4 separate regions of the Homo sapiens genome follow, and all the other regions are linked to region 1. The links come from fine-mapping of genetic effects on gene expression. A gene starts in region 1. Each other region holds a variant in brackets. All regions are shown on one strand. Distances are between the middles of the regions. Region 1 holds the start of FANCC (FA complementation group C). Region 2 has its middle 15 kb from the start of FBP1. Region 3 overlaps AOPEP (aminopeptidase O (putative)). Region 4 overlaps FANCC (FA complementation group C).

The links.
Region 2: its variant is fine-mapped to the expression of FANCC in prefrontal cortex (ROSMAP, PIP 0.95).
Region 3: its variant is fine-mapped to the expression of FANCC in whole blood (TOPMed, PIP above 0.99).
Region 4: its variant is fine-mapped to the expression of FANCC in whole blood (INTERVAL, PIP 0.98).

What each region holds. Positions count from the first base shown.
Region 1 is chr9:95,314,696-95,319,900 of GRCh38, forward strand. It overlaps FANCC (FA complementation group C), which reads right to left and starts at 3,014. Exons shown (of 15, transcript NM_000136.3): 1 at 2,831-3,014. RefSeq lists a silencer at 2,366-2,685.
Region 2 is chr9:94,652,339-94,657,543 of GRCh38, forward strand. No RefSeq gene overlaps it. Among named protein-coding and RNA genes, the nearest start is that of FBP1, 15 kb to the left of the region's middle. The variant CAGT/C (reference allele first, on the strand shown) is at 2,016.
Region 3 is chr9:94,959,695-94,964,899 of GRCh38, forward strand. The region is part of intron 9 of AOPEP (aminopeptidase O (putative)); the gene reads left to right. Among named protein-coding and RNA genes, the nearest start is that of AOPEP-AS1, 17 kb to the left of the region's middle. The variant AGTT/A (reference allele first, on the strand shown) is at 2,136.
Region 4 is chr9:95,164,409-95,169,408 of GRCh38, forward strand. All of the region lies in intron 6 of FANCC (FA complementation group C), which reads right to left. Among named protein-coding and RNA genes, the nearest start is that of MIR3074, 81 kb to the left of the region's middle. The variant T/C (reference allele first, on the strand shown) is at 1,964.

The sequences.
Region 1 (5,205 bases):
AATTTTAATGAAATTTTAAAAATAATTCAATTCACAATACCATCAAAAATAAAACTTCAAAATTAATTTACAAAAGGGCAAAATTTGTACACTGAAAATTACTAAATACTGCTAAGAGAAATTAAAGCGCTCAACAAATGGAAAGAGATTCCATGTTCATGATGAGATGGCAATTCTCCCCCAAATAGATATGCAAAATTAAATGCAATTCCTACAAAGTCTATCACAGCACGGTTTTCTGAAAAAAAATAACAAACTGATACTAAAATTTATATGGAAATGTAAGGAACCCTGAACCGCCAAAACAATTTTGAAAATGAAGAAAAACATTGGATAACTTACACTACTTAATTTCAAAACTTACTATAAAGCTGCCATAATCAAGATAATGTAATGCTGACATAAAAGGCATGCAGGTCTCTTACCCTCAGTCCCGTATTAAACTTGAGTTAGAAGATGCCAATCTCAAAATGGAGGTAAAACCATTGCCTGCTAGCCCCCAGTCCAACTCTGGTGGCCAATCTGAATTGTTACCAATTTTATTTTTCCAGACACGGTCTCAGTCTGCTGCCCAGTGTGGAGTGCAGTGGCGCAATCACAGTTCACTGTGGCCTCGACCTCCTGAACTCAGGTGATCCTCCACCTCAGCCTCCCGAGTAACTGGGACCACAGCCCCGCATCACTATGGCCGGCTAATTTCTTAACTTTTTGTAGAGACAGGGCTCTCTCTGTTGCCCACGCTGGACTCGAACTCCTGGGATCAAGTGATCCTTCCGCCTCCGCTTCCCAAAGTGCTGGGATTACAGGCATAAGCCACCATGCTCTGCCTGTTATCTGAATTGCCTTTCCTTCTCCACTTCTGCATTTTTATTAAAACATTGCAAAACTTCCAAGGTGCTTCTCCTGTATGTATTTTTTCACATTAAGTCAATCACTCAAGATCCACAAACAAGACAGAGAATGCACATATCCCAGCCTAAAATAAAACTTTTAAAAATCATTTGGTGCTCATTTCCAGCCCGATTTGAGGCCCTAACACTACCAACTTGGAACTACCACTCATGTGAGTTTCCTCTGGCTCTCTCCATGGCCCAGATAATCAATCCAACTTTCTACTGGCCAGGCTGGCCTCCCTGTAGCTGGTTCTCATAAACACGAAATTTGTATAATTGTTATTGGAACTACCTGCTGAAATATGGAACTGGTTAAAAGTACCATTTGTTTTAAAATGTACATGCACAGTTGCACATACATGCAGCAACACATCTTCCACAACCAGCCAATCAATCAAGTTAATGCTTTTTATTAGAGGACAAAACAAAAAATACCAATATAGAGCCTGCTTTTCTTTTCTGATGCCTTGGTAAACGTTTTTGGAGAAATCAAGAGAAAATATGACCGAATAAAGCAAAAATAAATTCGAATGTATAATATACAAAGTATAATTAGTCCAGTTCTCAAGAAGCAGGCTCTATTACTGGGAGTAGTGGGTTGGTGAAAAAGATCTCTGATATATCTAGGAAAACAAATTCTTTTTCGATGCAGCCTTTCTTGTATATGAATAATGTATATGAGTGCTTATTTCCAGGTGACTCTGGTACAGCACATAACATTGAAACATCAATTCAAGTTTAATGTATAAAGTCGCAATGAACATGTTTTCCATCTAAGCTTAGGTAATGAATGATCTCAACACATGGTATGAATTCTACTGTTTGTAACAACCTTTCAGGGGAGTAAGGAGAAAACGATCTGTCTGAGGGCATATCACTGACAGTGAGTGACAGCCACAAAGAGCTGAAGTTGGGTGGCCCAAAAGTGCTCTGCTCATTTGATAAATGCTAAGTCAAATCACATCACAGTTTAGATGCATTAAATGGGGCACAAGTTAGAATAAAATCAGATGCCCGGGAGTTTTCCAAGTTTCAGATTAGAACAAAAGTCCAGGCACATACAGGACTTTGCTAGAAAACTCCTTGGTCTCTTCCCTTAAGATTCTGGTACCCAATTTCCCATGTTATAAAACTCCAAGTCTTTTCCCCCATTCGGTGCGCTGGACACATAAGATCATAGAGGGTTCGTAGTTGTAAACGCACCCACCTAAAAAATTAAAAAGAGCAAACCAACAAACAGCACCTGAAAAATCTCTCACGGGCTTTGAAGATATGGCCTGGCGTCCACAAAAAGAATGGAGGGAAGACACTGGCCTCTGCGAACCCGCCTCCCTCCGGGAATAAAAGGCGGAGGGCGGGAGGGGTAACAGCCGCGCCCCGGGCTCCTCTAATTGGACCTCGCCCCTCCTGGCGCCCCGGCGAATGGGGTTTGGGGGCAGGGGTGTGAGGGACGGGGAGGACGAGGCCAGCTGTAGAGGGCGACCGGCTCAAAGGGGCGAGCTTTTCACGGCTCCCACGAGTCCGAGGCAGAGAAATTCACCTTTGCTCCTCTCCTTTGAAGAAGACATAGCTGCCTGCGCTCAATGAACAAAAAGAACCAAAACGCCAACACCCGGCTCCCGCCTCTCCGGGGGCTCCCTTCCGCGCGACCCCAGCGCCGGCTCCCGCCCCCGCTTTCCCCGCCCTGGCCCCGCCCCGCGGGCTGGCACCGCCCGCCACCTTCCGCCTCCCGCCTCCCGCCTCCCGCCTCAGCCTTAGCCACAGCCCTGCGCCGGCGGGAACCCCTCTCGCCCACCGCAAGGCGCGCCTGGCCCACCCGCTCTCGCGAGCCTTCCCTCTTGCCCCTCGCCTCCTCCTCCCGCTCTCGCCGCTGACGTGTCGGCCAGACCCCCGAGGGAAGCCTCCGCCCTCGCTGCGTTCTGCGGCCTGCCGCTTACCGGGTGGTCCTCGCGGGAGCTGCTTCAGCAGTTTGGGCAGTGGCGGAAAGGAAGCCACCGCCCGGGATCTGTGGCTTGAAAATTTGGCTTTGCCTCGTATTGGCTTTTTGAGTTTTTTTGGAATTTTCCCGCGGTCGCCCGGCAGTGGAGCCGCGCGCGCGCACACGTGTCAGCAGTGCATTCTGGGGCCTGGCTAGCGGCCCCGCGCGCTCCCGCGGCGTCGCGGGAAAATTCCGACGAATCTCGGGTCCGTGGGGCGGGGCGGGCGCGGCCAGGGCTCTGGCGGAAGTGGGCCCGGCTGGGGCGGGTTCTAGGCGAGCGGAGTCGGTACTGCTCCAGTGTTCCCGGTTTCGCGCGGAAGCCCCGGCGGGAGCAGGGTTGCAGCAGCGCCCGCGGAGAAGGGGCGCTGGCTTCTTCCATATTCTGTTCAAAATGTAGGGGAGGTAAAATGGAAATTAGTTCTTTTGAAGAAAAGTTGAGGCTTTGTCAACGGGGTAAAACCTCTAAAATAAGATTTTCTAACTGCGTTCTAAACAATAGCAACAAAAAAGGCATCTTCAGTTAATGATTTCCCCTACCGTACATTAGTTCCATACAGTGTTTGGTCGGGGTTCAAATCAGTTCAACGCTGTACATAAACCACCCAAACAAATATTAATAAAATTTTCTCCAAACTCCCATTTATGACAATGGCATTAGCTTGTCTTGGTGAATTTTTTTTTCTTCTAGGATCTGACGACTTAAGCTTTAAAATGTCTTAAATCAATGCCTCACAACCATAAATCATAATCATAAAACTACAGCTTAGGTCGGGCGCTGTGTCTCAGGCCTGTAATCCCAGCACTTTGGAAGGCCAAGGCGGGCGGATCACGAGGTCAGAAGATCGAGACCATTCTGGCCAACATGGTGAAACGCCGTCTCTACTAAAAATACAAAACGTTTAACCGGGCGCGGTGGCGGGCGCCTGTAATCTCAGCTACTCTGGAGGCTGAGGCAGAATAGCTTGAACCAGGGAGTCAGAGGTTGCAGTGAGCCGAGATCGCGCCACTGCACTCCAGCCTGGCGACAGAGGGAGACTCCGTCTCAAAAAAAAAAAAAAAAAAGCTACAACTTCACATATACGTTCAAAAACACACTACAGGCCGGGCGCGGTGGCTCACACCTCTAATCCCAGCACTTTGGGAAGCTGAGGCGGGTGGATCACCTGAGGTCAAGAGTTTGAGACCAGCCTGGCCAACATGGCAAAAACCCGTCTCTACTAAAAATACAAAAATTAGTGTGTACTCCCGGCTACTTAGGAGGCTGAGGCAGGAGAATTGCTTGAACCCAGGAGGCGAAGGTTGCAGTAAGCCAAGATCGCACTACTGCACTCCAGCCTGGGCAACAGAGCGAGACTCTGTCTCAACAAAAAACACCACAAAGCTGTGTGTGCTTGTAATAAAAATAGCTCTCAAGTATTTAAACATGTCCAACTATTCCTATGGTGAAGAAATACCCGTTTTACCAATGAATACTTTCAATTCAGAGACTAATTTGCAGAGGTTATACATTTATAAGTGATACAATAAGTATATAGCATAGCAATAGCAACAATCTGTTTAAGAATTAAAGGTAGTTAAAAAAAGGAACCGATCCAGAGGTTGAGACAAAACTGGCAGAATCTGCAACTACATTAAGGAATTCGGTGTTTACATCCATTCTCGAAACTATTCCATGCCAGTTAAGGAAGTCGGTGCTTTTTGATTGTTTTTTAATTTTAGATTCGGGGGTACATGTGCTTGCTTGTTACATAGGTATATTGTGTAATGGTGGGGATTGGGCTTCTGGTGTACCTGTCCCCCAAACATTGAACATTGTACCCAATAGCTAATTTTTCAGCCCTCACCCCCTTCCCACCCTCTCCCTTTTTGGAGTCCCCAGTGTCTTGTTATTCCCATTCTTATGTACATGTATACCTATTGTTTAGCTCCCGCTTATGAGAACATGCAATATTTGATTTTCTGTTTCTGAGTTTGTTCACTTAGGATAATGTCCTCCAGCTCCATCCATGTTGCTGCAAAGGACATGATTTCGTTCTGTTTTACAGCAGAGAGGTCGATGTGTTTTTGATGTGTGCATAGTGTGACATGGATAAATCAAAAGCAAGTCCTGGGTAGGGAAATACATGCCTGAGGGGCACTCATCGTGGCACCTTGACCATGAGAAAGTCACCTCTGTGGTAACAAATCGAGAGTGAGTTGACGTTTAAGTTCTGCATTTATCAGCAAAGAAAGCAATTAAAGTATGTATTTCTTGAGAGAAATTATCTATTTTGGTACCCACATCCTTTTACATATTCGCTGAAAAATCATTTTTAGTGTTTGTTAATGATTGAT
Region 2 (5,205 bases), 660 kb before region 1:
GCTCAGCTCTCCCCTTGGAGCTCCAAATCCCCATATCCAGCTGCTTCTTGATTTCTGTATCTCGATGTCTCAAAAGTCATGTCACACACAAGACTGAATTCATGGTCTTTCCTGACCTTCCACACCAAGCCAGATCTTTGTCCAATATTTTATTTCTTGGGTGATGACGTTACCAATCAGCCAGAAGTCTAGGATTTTTCTTTGACAGCCCCCCTCACCCTCCATATCCAGCCCACCCCCAAGTTTCTCCTTCATTCCCCGCCCCCCGCTCCATATTCAGCCCACCCCACCCCCCATAATTTGTGTTTTCCTGATGTCTTTGAACAGGTCCAGTTCTCCCTTCTCCTCTGGCACCATTCCGGCCCAAGCTGTCAGTCATCCTCCTCCCAGACTATAGCAGAGGCCTCCTCGTGGCTCTTTCATATCTATCCTGCACTCTCCAGCCCATTCTCTTTGCTGCAGCCAAAGCAACATTTTGAAATAGCTGAGAACACACACACACACATGACTTTGGTTGTGTGTGTTTTGAATAAGGGCTAAAATATTAACCCTGGCCTACAGACCCTGCACCATCTGGCCCCCCAGCCTCTCCAGTGTCATCTTCCATGTCCCACCAGCTGCCCCTGCTTCCCTGTTTCTGCTCCAGCCACATGGCGCCCTCCCTGTGCAGGGCCTTTGCATGGTGTTCTGAGTGCACTGCCCTGGCCACCGCCTTTTGCTTGGCTTGGGTTGTGTCTACGTTTGTGTTTTCAGCAAAACATCCCCTGACCCCCATGCAGGCCAGGTCTCATTCCTTACAGAAGCCAGTTTTCTTCCTTTAGAGCCCTGATGCCAGTTTGTGAAACACACTCGCTAACGTAGGGATCCGAGTGATGGACTGATGTCTGTCTCCTTCCAGCAGGCTGTTCACTCTCTGAGAGCGGAGGTATCTATTCTGCTCACTCTTTTATCCCAAGGTGTTCTTAACATGGCACCCCGAAGAATGTAGGCCCTCAGGAAATATTTGTCAAATGGTGACTGAAGTGGAGAGAGAGAGAGAGGGCAATGAGGCCGCCGCTTGTGAGGGCTCCAAGTGTTCGGAGGGAGTGGATTGTGCCTATTCAGTCACGCACCTTTGTCACTTGGGAAATGGCTGGCTCTGGCCTTGCACCTAGTGGGGGCTTCATAAATATTGGCAGGATTGAATTGAACTGAGTTGACGCACTCACCAGCTCCACTGGAAAATGTGTCTCGAGCTAGCACTTACTGAGCATGTAAAACTACGGGTCATTATGCTGAATGCTTCTCATGTGTTCACCCATTTAATCCTGAAGACACCATGAGATGGGCATTACTGTTCCATTTTTATAAACAAAGGAACCAGTCAGGGGCCCTGTGGGAAACAGATGGCACACTCAGGATGATTTCAGGAGAATTTCACAAAGGAATCCTCCACAACCATGTGGACGGGGGTGGGGGGAAGAAAGGCATAAGGGGCTGCGATGCCTCAGGGCTCACAGTGACTGCTGGGGGCTTCACTGCTACCCCTACGCTTGAAGTTTGCCAGAACCCCACACAGAGAGGGCAGAGTGGAGGAGCTGCCTGTCAGGAGCCAAGATGGCAGGTCGAGGGCTGTGGCCAGTCCAAGGTACCCCTGAGGGCACCAGAATAAAGTGTCCAGACTCGCTTTCCCTCTGAGGCTGTGCACTGACTGAACCCAGCTGGCAGCCCTGGGGCAGGGGAACCCTTGATGCCGTCCTGCGGGTCAGCCTCCCAGGGCCTCGAGCAGGTGGAGAAGGATGGAAAATGGACCTGGAGGTGCAAACAACCAGCACAAGTCCCAGAGCACAGTCCTCAGAGCTGGAGCCCCTCTCCAAGGCCCATCAAGAGCCATCTCCATAGTCCTCCAAGAGGACTGCTGTCCATGTACCGCCTTCTTGGAACAGAAATCAGAGAAGTCAGAGTTCTTCTCCATGCGAGTACTGACGAGTGGGTGCGCTGAGACTGAGTCATTGGCTAGAGCAGGAACTGGTGGG[CAGT/C]GATGCTGGGGAAGGAAGTACAGAGAGGACATGTCAGGTGGTCACCAGCCCAGCAACTCCCCATCACATGTGCCTCAGCACGTCCAGCCTAAGGGAGGGAGGGACAGTCGACCCAGACCTTGTCAGTCCACAGGCTGGAGGTAATTGAAATCCAGCCACTTTGATGGCAACTGCTATGGCCCTAGTCCTGTACTATAAAGCAGATCATCTGAGAACAAGAGAGCTCACCCAATGTCCATTTCACCTTGAATAAAATCTGGAGGCTGTGGCTCTGCTTACCCTCAACAGTCAGCTAGGGGCACTTCTCCAATGACACACCCCATGTCCTTAGACTTCCTCAGTGGCTCAATGTCTAACATGAGGAAGCGAGAACATGGACATCCCAACGCTTGTGTAATTGTAACGACTGTCTGCAAAGCACTTCAGTGTTCCCAAATGGAAAGATTCCCCGGAAGTAGAAAGAGCTATTATTGTCCATTATGAGCATTCTTTCTAGAATCTTCTTCTTTCTACCCTCAACTGTGGCTTTTTAGACTAGCAGACATCTGCCAAAAGCCACTAACCCAGAGACACTGATTCTATCAAACAGCACAGTGGGACAGTCACTCTCCCAACTTTCTTTCTTTTTCTTTTTTCTTTTTTTTTTTGAGACAGAGTTTCGCTCTTGTTGCCCAGGCTGGCGTGCAATAGTGCAATCTCGGTTCACCGCAACCTCCACCTCCTGGGTTCAAGCGATTCTCCTGCCTCAGCCTCCCGAGTAGCTGGGATTACAGGCATGTGCCACCGTATCCAGCTAATTTTTGTATTTTTGGGAGAGACAGGGTTTCTCCATGTTGGTCAGGCTTGTCTCAAATTCCCCACCTCGGGTGATCCACCCACCTCAGCCTCCCAAAGTGCTGGGATTACTGTCATGAGCCACCAGGCCCGGCCCCCAACTTTCTTAATAATTAAATCCAATCTCTTGCTAGACAGACTTTTTTGTTGTAGTGCCAAGGCTGCTTGAAATTTTCATTTTGCTGTCTAATTTGCATAAACTTGTAATCAATAAGTTTTTGCCCTATACTTGGCCCCTACTCCTACCGTAGTAAAATATTCGATGCATATTTTTCATGGAAATATTGAAGAAACATACATTCTCAGACAAGAAACATCAAATGTGGCCATTGCTTTTGTACCACTCAATATGCAACTCAGACTGGTTGAAATTTAGACCAAATGGTAACATCCAGAAGAAGATAGGACCACAGAGCTAAGGAGGGCTGCAGTGGGCTGAATATGGTGCCACTGCCCACAGTGTCCACCCAGAATCTGGGATGGTGGCCTTATTTGGGAAATGGGGTCTTTGAAGATGTAATCAAGTGAAGGCTGTTGCCATGTGATCATCCTGAATTACCCAGGTGAGCCCTAAACCCAATTACAAGTGTCCTCACAAGAGAAAGGCAGAGAGAGATTTGAAACACACAGAGCAGAAGGTGATGTGGAGGTGGGACAGAGACCCAGCGAAGCAGCCACATGCTGAGGAGCGCCTGGAGCTGGAGGAGGCAGGAGAGGACTCGTCCTGAGCCGTCAGAGGAAGGACAGCCCTGCCGCCACCTTCATTTCAGACTCGGCTTCCAGAACCGCAGGAGGACACAGTTCTGTGGCTATGAACCACCCGATTTGTGGTGCTTGGTTATGGCAGCCACAGGAAATGAATACAGAAACTATTCAAATCCCCTGGTTGAATTCCTTTATTTTACAGATGAGAAAAATAACAGCATTCGCAAGCGACACACAGTTTATGAAATGTTTTCACAGAGTGACCATGTTCAGTCTTCATAGCAATTCTGTGAGGTGGTAGTTTCTGCCTGTTAAAAGGAAAACTGAGGCAAACTACATTTAACAGAGTTTAATTGAGCAAAGAATGATATGGGAATCAGGCAGCCCCCTGACCAGAAGAGGTTCAGAGCGTCTCTGGTGCTGCCGTGTGGTGAGAGTCTTTACGGGCAGAGAACGGAAAGTGAAGCACAGAAAACAGAAGTGAGGCAGAGAAACAGCCTGATTGGCTACAGCTCAGCGTTGGCCTTACTCGAACACAGTTGGAAGACTTGGCCACCTGTGAGTGGTTGAAGTATGGTTGCTTGTCACAAGAGTAGGTTACAGCCCCTTTCACATCCAGTTAAGTGACAGTTCCCTTTGTGCAGAGAAGCCTTTAGCCACACAGGTCCCAAATGTAACATAACATTTGTTACACTTAAAATAAGTAAGGAGGCAGCTGTAGGCTAAATTTAACATGCCTGGGAGGAGGGAACTGAAGCTCAAACCAGAAGCAGCAGATAGATGGGTCTGCAAATTTCATGCGTTTTCCACCAGATCTCTGCCTGTGGCTCAGAGAGGTGTGGCAGCACAGCTACCTCACACAGCTGCTGAGAAACAGGCTTGGATACAGGTCTTTTTTTTCTCCCCACTTTTGCTTCAGATCTCTACCCAGGTATAACGAGCTGCATCTCAAGGTCAGAACGACTGAACAATAAAGAGGTTGGTTCAACAGATGACCTCAAAACTCATAACCTACATCCCGAAGCTAAAGAAAAACTTACGTCTCCAAAAAGAGGTGTAGTTAGCTGCAGGTTATTTGAATGAGCAGCACATGCTGTGCATTTGCTTTAAGATTCTCCAAACACGCAGAAAGCCAAGCTAATCCTCAGCGCTCCCATGCCAATCTGGTGTGGGGACCCTCCACTCCAGGCTGCCTTGTAGAATGCCTTATTGATGTGCGGCAAGGGGCACCCCATGAAAGTCCCAACAGCTCTGAAGGTAATGAGCAAATAATCCAGTTGAGCAAGCAATCAAAGAACAATAACAATTGTCTTGTGACAATACCCCCCAGTTTGTAATTAGTTAGCTTAAATTAGTTTAAATTCACTTCATTTGGAAGATTTTGCCTCTGAGGCAGGCCAAGGCTCTCTTTCAGAGGCCAATTAGATTAAATTAGAAGTGGCACATTAGCTGGGGAGACTTCATTCATTTTGGGTTTTTGCAGCCTTAATTATGATGCAGACACAGCTGGAGTCATCCTTTGGAGGGTTTTCTTGCTTCAGCAGGCACTGGAGGCGACTGGATTCCTGGGAGAGGTGCTTTCAGTGGCGTGTGTGGCCAACCAAGCCACCCAAGGCTACTTTGTCACCAGATTCTGCTCTTGGCCCAT
Region 3 (5,205 bases), 360 kb before region 1:
AAATACCTATAATTAATATTGTGTGAGTGACACTCCAGAAATCATACTATTTATCCCTCAATGTTTATATGTTATACATGATATATATACATGTATCTGTGTATGTATGTATATATGGCATATGTGTGTATACAGACATTGATGTCACTGGACAGAAATAATTTTATAAAAATAGGATTATATTATATGTGCATTTTAATGAAGTGTTTTAAATTTTCTTTTACTTGAATTTAATGAATGAAAAAGCAACTAAAGTGGAGATAACTTCCCAAACTTAAGATAAATGTAAGAAAGATTATTTTCTAAAAGAATTTTTTATGGTTAAGAAACATTATTATAAAAGAATTAAGAGGTTGAAATTATTTTTTCCCTTTACCTATATATTCCATTTGTAGAAAACATCAGTTTATTCACTACTGTAAAAGATGAGGAATTGGCCGGGCACGGTGGCTCACGCCTGTAATCCCAGCACTTTGGGAGGCTGAGGCGGGTGGATCATGAGGTCAGGAGTTCGAGACCAGCCTGGCTAACATGGTGAAATCCCATCTCTACTAAAAATACAAAAATTAGCCAGGCATTGGTGGTGAGTGCCTGTAATCCCAACTACTCAGGAGGCTGAGGCAGGAGAATAGCTTGAACCCAGGAGGCGGGGGTTGCAGTGAGGCGAGATCACGCCACTGCACTCCAGCCTGGGACAGAACGAGACTCCATCTCAGGGAAAAAAAAAAAAAAGATGAGGAATTAAATAGTTATGTACTTTAACTACTTTCCCCTTAATTCTAAATTTTTCTTAATTATTATTTTTATATATTAAGATTTATTTCATTTACAAAATTGACTATAACCATAATTTTCACAGTTGTGTAATCTTGGCTTGTTAAAGGATTTCAGTATTTACCACCAGTTATTTTACCTTTTTTCATGAATATTTTATTTTGATTCAGCTCTTTGCTGGCTGAATTTCATTATCAAATTTGTGTTCGTTGCAGACTCACAGGCTCTATTTCTGAGTTCTTACTGCGTAAGAATGCTTGTGGGCCGGGTGCGGTGGCTCACGCCTGTAATCCCAGCACTTGGGGAGGCCAAAGTGGGCAGATCACGAGGTCAGGAGATCGAGACCATCTTGGCTAACACGGTGAAACCCCGTCTCTACTAAAAATACAAAAAATTAGCCGGGCGCGGTGGGGGGCGCCTGTAGTCCCAGCTACTCGGGAGGCTGAGGCAGGAGAATGGCGTGAACCCGGGAGGCGGAGCTTGCAGTGAGCCGAGATTGCGCGCCACTGCACTCCGGCCTGGGCGACAGAGCGAGAATCTGTCTCAAAAAAAAAAAAAAAAGAATGCTTGCCTGTTTTCTTTATATTTGAATTATAAACTGACTGGATATAATATTCTTGGGTCACATTTTCATGCCCTCAAAACTTTTTAGACATGGCTCAGCTGCTTTCTGGCATTAAATCCTGCTGTGGAAACTTCTGCAGTCATCCTGCTTTTCCCCCTTTCTGCCTCTTAGATGACAGAAGAATTCTTTCCTTATCTTTGAAGTTTAGTAATTTTATCAGGAAATGGCTTGGTGTCTATGGTTTTCTATCTTTTTTCCCCCTGGAAAAATAGTGTGCATTTTTATTTTTAGTCCTAGATTCTATTCTTTCCTCTTTCAATAAGTATGTCTTCATTGTATTTTTGAATTCGTTTTTCCCCCTTGCAGGGTTCTGGATTTCAAGGTTACCAGTTTTCCTTGTGTTATGTCATCCTTGTCCTCTATACCTGTTATTTTCCAATTGCGTTTATCTTTTTCTTCTTCATGACCTGTATTAATCCGAAGCAACCCCTTTATTGTTAGTGTTATTTTCCTTAATGTCTGTTCTTTTCCTTGACGTTTCTATTAGTGCTCTTGTACTGGTCCTTAATTTATTACCTTTGCCATGAAATCTCTATGTTCTTTTCATTTTGTTGTTTTGTCAACTTATCTTTGAGCTTTCATTTTACCAAATTTATGTTTTTATTTTTTCTGTAGCTGTTAATTTATTTTATAGTGTAAAGTATTCATGGAGAATTTTCTTCTATTCCTTGGATTATGTTTTCTTCAAGGCGGGATTCCTTATCTTTTATGTGTTATGCTGCTTTCTTTCTATGTG[AGTT/A]GTTGTTGTGTTAGTTTGCATGGTTGCCATACGTTTCTTTTTGCTCATTCTCAGCTTGGGTAGCACTCTCCTGACCTTTCGTTTATTCTCATATGTATTGGAACATTATCTTTGATTCCTTTTCCAACTTGTGCTATGCCTGTTTTTCTCTCCCTCTGAGCTACAGTTTGAAACTTGGATGTTATGTGTACAGGGGAGGAGGAGAGAAGCTCCACTGGAGTTGTATACAGCCTTTGTTGGGAAAATGTGGCTGTGCTGCTCTTGAAAACTTGTTAAATGTCCCCTGCCAAGATTCTTGTGACCTAATATGGGTGCAGCTTTTTCCCACTGTGTTAATATTAATTAATTCCCTCTCAATTAATATTGTTCCTCCAATTTAGGTGACAGCCCTAGAACATGAGCAGTTCACCGAAGAGAGTCATCCTCAGTTGTTTATTTCCCACGTTTTACTCATCTCTTGCCAGCAAACACTTCCAGCCCCTCCACAGGCAAAAAAGAAGACAGACAAAGATATTCCTATTTTTTCCCAAATGTGTGGATATTTGTGAGAATTTGCCGGGTTTGTGCAGTTCACCAGTACTGCTACTGCTAAGCATGAGGCTGGGGGTCGGTGCAGAGGGAGAGTTAGAAGCTGTGTTTGAATCTTAGATTTCTTCCTTAGTTGCATCTTCTTGAAGTTTATGCCATGAGGCTGTCCTTGTTTGAATGCTGCTGGTTACATTTTTAATTACTTTAATGGTTTGTGTTTTTGTGTAAATTGCTAGTTAGTTATTGATGATGAAGGTCTATGATCCAGTTTCTTTACTCAGAAGTCCCTAAAGTTCTTCCTTTTCCAGTTTACATCTTAATCCTTTCCCTTCCAAATGCCCTCCCTGTCCAGCATTTCAATATTATCATCTTTTTTTTTTTTTTTTTTTTGAGACGAAGTCTCACTCTGTCACCCAGGCTGGAGTGCAGTGGCGTGATCTCGGCTCACTGCAAGCTCTGCCTTGTGGGTTCACGCCATTCTCCCGCCATTCTCCTGCCTCAGCCTCCCGAGTAGCTGGGACTACAGGCACCCGCCACCACGCCTGGCTAAATTTTTGTATTTTTTAGTAGAAATGGGGTTTCACCGTGTTAACCAGGATGGTCTCGACCTCCTGACCTCATGATCCGCCCACCTCAGCCTCCCAAAGTGCTGGGATTACAGGCGTGAGCCACCGCATCCAGCCAATATTATCATCTTTGTAGCCCCCACTAAAAGCCCTCTCTTGAGTGTAACAATAACTTCTTCCTGACAATTTCATTTCTTCTCAGTTTTTATCTTGCCAATCCTGTCCTTCCTTCAATATTTTGTTTTGCCTCTACTACCTCCCACCCCTTCCCCATGAACATGATAATTATTCATAAAATACTCGACAGAAATTGCTAGCCCCATGTAATAGTCAAGCCAGTGTCAGTTTATCCAGTAGAATCTACATGTACCTGCTTTCTGTTGAATACTTTCACCAGGACTAAAAAATAGTTACCAAATTAGCCATGTGCCAAAATCAGTGTTAGTTTTTCAAAAATGTGTAGTGTTTAATTTAGTGTTGTTAGGTGTTAATCAAAACAAGCTGTATGCGATGGACCTGATTGGCATATAGATTATTAGGACAGTAGGAAATGAAAAAAAAATTCTAAAGGAATGTATTTTCTGATTGGAGTGTGGGCTTGTAACCATCGCCAAGGGTCCAGATAGAATTTCATCCCCTTCATAGATTTAAATAAATCTATTGTTTTATCAATAGATTTTGGGGAGTGGGGGTGGGCTTTGGTTTTAATTTGTTTTCAGGCACACTGCAGAGGTGACAAGCTGGGGCCCCTACTATTTGTTGCTAGCTAACTTTGTCAAATTTTTCTAGAATCAGCTATGAAAAAAGTCTTCCTTGTCCAAATAAGATTTATAATTTGCTTTCACAAAACTGCCAATACACTGTAGGAAAGAAAGAAGACAGACGAAAGAATTGAAAAGAGGTGGTGCAGGAAGGAATAATCATAAGAGACATTTTTCTTTTTATTTTCTTGTGCTGTAGAAAGTGGAAAAAGCTTCTGTCATAAGTCCACTTTAGAGGTATATGCCAATTTATGAAAAGAAACAGGAAAACTAGTGTTTCATGGTTAAAGATGGAATCTATGACAGGAGTAAGAAGGGCCAGTGGGTTAATTCCATTGATAGATGGTACAGAGACTGCCTGGATGAGACCAGCTATCTTGAATGGGATGGAACACAGAACAGAAGAATATCGAACGCTATAGAAAGACATTCCCATAGCCTGTGGGAATGCAGCCCCATGTCTTAGAGATGCCCAAGGTGTTAGGATTTTGCGATCCCCTGGGCCTGCCATCCCCAGCATCGCTGGCAGCCTCCAGCTCACTGCTCTGTTGCCTGCAGGCCTGAGCTCTGAGGTAGGAAGAGGCAGGTGCTCCAGGATCACAGCCCACTGGGAGGCAGGACAACCATCTTCCTTCAACATGAAGCAGGGTTTCCGGGGCCTCCTGCGCTTACCCTGAACTCAACACCCAATTCTGGATACTTGTGCTCTGCAATCCTGTACAGAAGGATCCAATTGTAACTGGAAAATGCAAAAGGGCAGAATTAAGGTTAACTCTGAATTTCCTGCTTCTCATGCAATTAAATTCCCCCCGTTGCCATTGAGTTAATGTAATTTCCCCCCATATAATTGAGCATAAATTACCAGGCAAATATAGGATAAATTAGTATAGGCTACAAGGAGATAATGAAGTAAACTTAGTAAAAAGTTATCATTACAAGTACTTGGACTTTTTTTTTTTTTTTTTTTTTTGAGACGGAGTCTCTCACTGTCGCCCAGGCTGGAGTGCAATGGCGCGATCTCGGCTCACTGCAACCTCCGCCTCCCAGGTTCATGCAATTCTCCTGCCTCAGCCTCCCAAGTAGCTGGTATTACAGGTGCCCACCAACCCACCCAGCTAATTTTTTGTATTTTTAGTAGAGACGGGGTTTCACTATGTTGGCCAGGCTGGTCTCGAACTCCTTACCTTGTGATCTGCCCGCCTTGGCCTCCCA
Region 4 (5,000 bases), 150 kb before region 1:
TGAGTATGATGTTAGCTATGGATTTTTCAAATATGGCCTTTACTACTTTACTACATTGAGGTCATTTCCTTCTATTCCTAATTTGTTTAAGGTTTTACCATAAGTGAGTATTGAGTTTTGTCATATGCCATTTCTGCATTAAGATGATCCATGTGGTTTTTGTTCATCATTTTATTAATGTGGTGCAATATAGTGATTTTTGTATGTTGAGCCATCCTTGTATTCAAGGAATAATTTTCATTCAGTCATGGTGTTTATACATATCTTTTTAACGTATTGTTGAATTCCCTTTTTGCTGAGAATCCTTCCATCATGATTCACGAAGGATATTAATCTGTTTTCATGTAGTTTCATTGCCTGATTTTCGTGTCAGGGTAATGCTTGCTCACAAAATGAGTTTGGAAATGTCCCCTCTTCTTCAATATTTTGGAAGACTTTAAGAAAGACTGGTGTTAATTCTTCTTTAAATGTCTGATAGAATTCTCCAGTGAAGCCATCTGGTCCTGGTTTTTTTCTTTGTTGGAAGGTTCTGAATAACCAATTCAATCTCTTTACTAGTTGTAGGTCTGTTCAGATGTTTTTATTTCTTCATTATTCAGTCGTGTAGGCTGTATATTTTTAGACATTTATTTATTCTAGGTTATTCAATTTGTTGGTATATAATTGTTCATAGTAGTCTCAATCTTTTTAATTTTTGTGGCATCAGTTTTAATTTCTATTCTTTATTCCTGATTTTTGCTATTAAGTCTTCTCTTTTTTTTTCTTAGTCTAAGGAATTGTCAATTTTGCTGATCTTTACAAAAACCCAACTCTTAGTTTTTTCTTCTATTCTCTATTTTATTTATTTCTGTTCTAATCTTTATTAGTCTCTCCCTTTTAACTTTAGGTTTAGTTTGTTCTTTTTCTAGTTGCTTGAGGTGTAAAGTTAGGTTTCTGATTTGAGATCCTTCTTATTTTCTTTTTTTTTCTTCCTTCAAAAGCATGTACACTTTCTTCTTTTTTAATGTAGGCATTTACCACTATAAACTTCCTGCTTAGAACTGCTTTTGCTGCATCCCATAGGTTGTGATATGTTGGGTTTTCATTTTCATTTGTCTCAAGTTATTGTCTGTGTTTCTTGTAATTTGTTCTTTGACTCACTGGTTGTTTAAGAGTGGGTTAATTTCCACATATTTGTGAATTTTCCAATTTTCTTTTTGTTACTGATTTCTATTCCCTTGTGGTCAGAAAAAATAGTTACTATGATTTCAGTCTTCTTAAATTTGTTAAGACTTGTTCTGTGGCCTAACATGTGGTCTTTCCTACAGAATGTTCTATATGTGCTTGAGAAGAGTGTATATTCTGCTGTTATTGGGTAGAATGTTCTCTATATGCCTATTAGGTCCAATTGGTCCACAGCATTATTCAAGTTCTATTTTTTTATTGGTCTTCAGTCTGGTTAATCAATATGTTATTAAAAGTGGGGTGGTGAAATCTATTATTATTGTGTTACTGTCTCTTTCTCCCTTCAATTCTATTGGTATCTGCTTCATATATTTGGATGCTGTGTTAAGTGCATATATTATTGTAATTGTTGTATCTCCCTGAATTGACACTCTTATTATTATATAATCTTTTTCTTTGTCTCTTTTGATAGTTTGATATAAGTATGGCTATGCCTGCTCTATTTTGGTTGCCATTTTTCCATCTTTTCATTTTCAGCCTATGTATCTCAAGTGAGTCTCTTGTAGCTAGAATATAGTTGGATCTTGTTTTCTGATCTATTTTGCTATTCCACATCTTTTGAATGGGGTGTTTAATTCATGTTCACCTAAAGTAATTACTGATAGAGAAGGACTTACTATTGCCATTTTGTTGTTTTCCATATACCTAGTAGTTATTCTGTTCACGATTTTCTCTTATTCCCTTCCTTTGGGTTTCATTGATTTTTTTCATAGTGACATGCTTTCCTTCTCATTTTCCA[T/C]TGTACATCTCCTACAGGTATTTTCTTGTTGTTACCATGGGCATTACATTAAACATCTTAGAGTTATAACAACCTAACGAGATAACTTCAATCACATACTAAAACTCTACTCATTTACATTTCCCTCCCCAGTTTATGTTATCAATATCACAAATTACATCCTTTTCTATTTTGTATCTATCAACACAGTTTAATAGTTATTTTTACACTTTTATCTTTTAAGTTCTATACCAGAATTAAAAAGTGATTTATGTACACTCAGCCCTCTATATCTATGGGTTCTGTATCCATGGATTCAACTAAATCATGGATCAAAAATATAGTATTTGCAGGATGTAGAACCCAAAGATTGAACGTTTGTATCTGTAAGTTCCATACAGTTTACTATGGGACTGGAGCATCTATAGATTTTGGTATGTGTGGGAAGTCCTGGAACCAATCCTCTCTGGATACTGAGGGACAACTGTACTATACAACACGGTATTATAAGATTTTGTGTTTGTCTGTATATTTACATTTACCAGAAGGCTTTATATTTTTGCATGCTTTCATGTTGCTAATATTCTTTCATTTCAACTTGAAGGACTCCCTTTAGCAATTCTTGTAAGGCAGGTCTAATGGTGATGAACTCCTTCAGCTTTTGTTTATCTGGGAATGTCTTTTTTTCTTCATTTTTTGAAGGATGATTTAGCCCAGATGCAGTATTCTTGATTGGAAGGGTTTTTTGTTTTGTTTTGTTTCCTCCCTGGCTCTTTGAATGTATCATCCCACTCCTTTCTGGCCTGTAATATTTCTGCTGAGAAATCCACTGATAATCTTCTGGAACCTTCCTTGTACATGACAAGTCACTTTTTTCTTGCTGCTTTCAAGATTATGTCTTTAACTTCTGACAATCCGATTTTTGTGTATGTTGTTGTAGGCCTCTTTGGGTTCATTCTTTGGAGTCTGCTGAGCTTCTGAAATTAGGATATCCAATTCCTTCCTAATATTTGGGAAGTTTTCACCATTATTTCTTCAAATAAGTTCTCTGCCCCTTTCTCTCTTATTCTAGGACTCACAAAATGTGTGTATTGTTCCATTTGATGTTGTTCCACAAGTGTCTTAGGCTTTCTTGACTTTCCTTCATTCTTTTTTCTTTTTGTTTCTCTGACTTAATAATTTCAAATGATTTGTGTTTAAGTTTTCTGACCCTTTCTTCTGTTTGATCAAGTCTACTGCTGAACCCCTCTAGTAAGTTTTTCAATTCACTTATTGTGGTTCTTTAGCTCCAGAATATCTGTTTGGTTCTTTTCTAGTTTCCATCTCTTTGTTGATATTCTCATTTTGCTCACATATTGTTTTCCTGATTTCATTTAGTTGTTTATCTGTGTTCTCTTGTAGTGCCTTGAGATCCCTTAAGGCAATTATTTCAAATACTTAGTCAGGTAATGCATAGATCTCTGCTTCTTTAGGGTCTGTTTCTGTAGATTTATTTTCATCCCTTGATTATGCCACGTTTCCCTGGTTTACTTTGTGTCTTGTTATTTTTGTTGTATTTTGTACATTTAAAGAAACATCTACTTCTCTCAGTCTTTATCGACTAACATGGTACAAAGGAAGGCTTTCACCAGTGGACCCGGCTAGACATTCTGGAGGTCCCTCAAACCTTTTCCAGGGATATATCTTCTCTGGGCTTATGCGTGTGATTTCCAAATTAGAGGGCTTTACTGGTTTTTCAAGAGCTCCTAATCTTCCCCTCCCCTCTAGTGTCCGTTTGTGGTATTGCAGATTCTCCAGTGCTGCAACAAGCTGCTGAGCTCTCTTGTTCCAAACTACGCCATTTCTCTGTCAGTGCTGTGAGTCAGGCAAGACAGATACCAGTCCCTCTAGTAGGCCCCTGAGAAGCCAGAGGCTTCTCTTCCCCTCCCAAAGAACAGGTCATGAGCTAAGTGCTTCCTCCCAATTCTGTTGAGCTATGCCAGCCTCCATCGGCAGCACTGTCAATTCTCTGGTGCTACCACAAACCACTAAGCTTTCTTTTGTTCTCCATGGCCCCAAGGCATCAAAAGTAGTCTTCCTTTATCTGCAGTTTTACTTTTTGTAGTTTGAGCTAGCCATGGTCACCCGTGGTCCAAAAATATTAAATGAAAAAATTCCAGAAATAATTCAAAGGTTTTAAATTGTGCACTGTTTTGTTCGAGATGGCACCTTGCTCTGTTGCCCAGGCTGGAGTGCAGTGATGCAATATCAGCTCACTGCAACCTCCACCTCCCAGGTTCATGTGATTCTCCTGCCTCAGCCTCCCGAGTAGCTGGGACTACAGGCATAAGCCACCACGCCCAGCTAATTTGTACTTTTAGTAGAGATGCGGTTTTGACATGTTGGCCAGGCTCGTCTTGAACTCCTGAAATCGGGTGATCTACCTACTTCAGCCTCCCAAAGTGCTGGGATTAAAGGCATGTGCCACCGCACCTGGCCTAAATTGTGTACTGTTCTGAGTAGCATGATGAAATCTCATGCTGTCCCACTCTGTCCCATCTGGAACATGAATCATCCCTTTACCCAGGGTATCCATAATATATACACTACCTGCTCGTTAGTCACTTAGTAGCCATACTGGTTGTCAGATCAACTGTCACAGTATCACTGTGCTTGTGTTCAAGTAACTCTTATTTTATTAATACTTAATAATGACCTCAAAGTCCAAGAGCACTGGGGCTGGCAATTTGGATATGCCACAGAGAAGTTGTAAAGTGCTTTCTTTAAGTGAAAAGGTGAAAGTTTTCAACTTAATAAGGAAAGAAAAAAATCATATGCTGAGGTTGCTGAGATCTATAGTAAAAACAAATCATCTATCTGTGAAATTGTAAAGAAGGAAAAAAATTTCTGTTAGTTTTGTCGTTGCATCTCACATGGCAAAAATTACAGCCATCATATATGATAAGTGCTTAGTTACGATGGAAAAGACATTAAAGTTGTGAGTGGAATACAGAAATGTGTTATGATTGGTGGCAATCAGGTTTGGTACTATCCACAGTTTCAGACATCCACTGGGTGT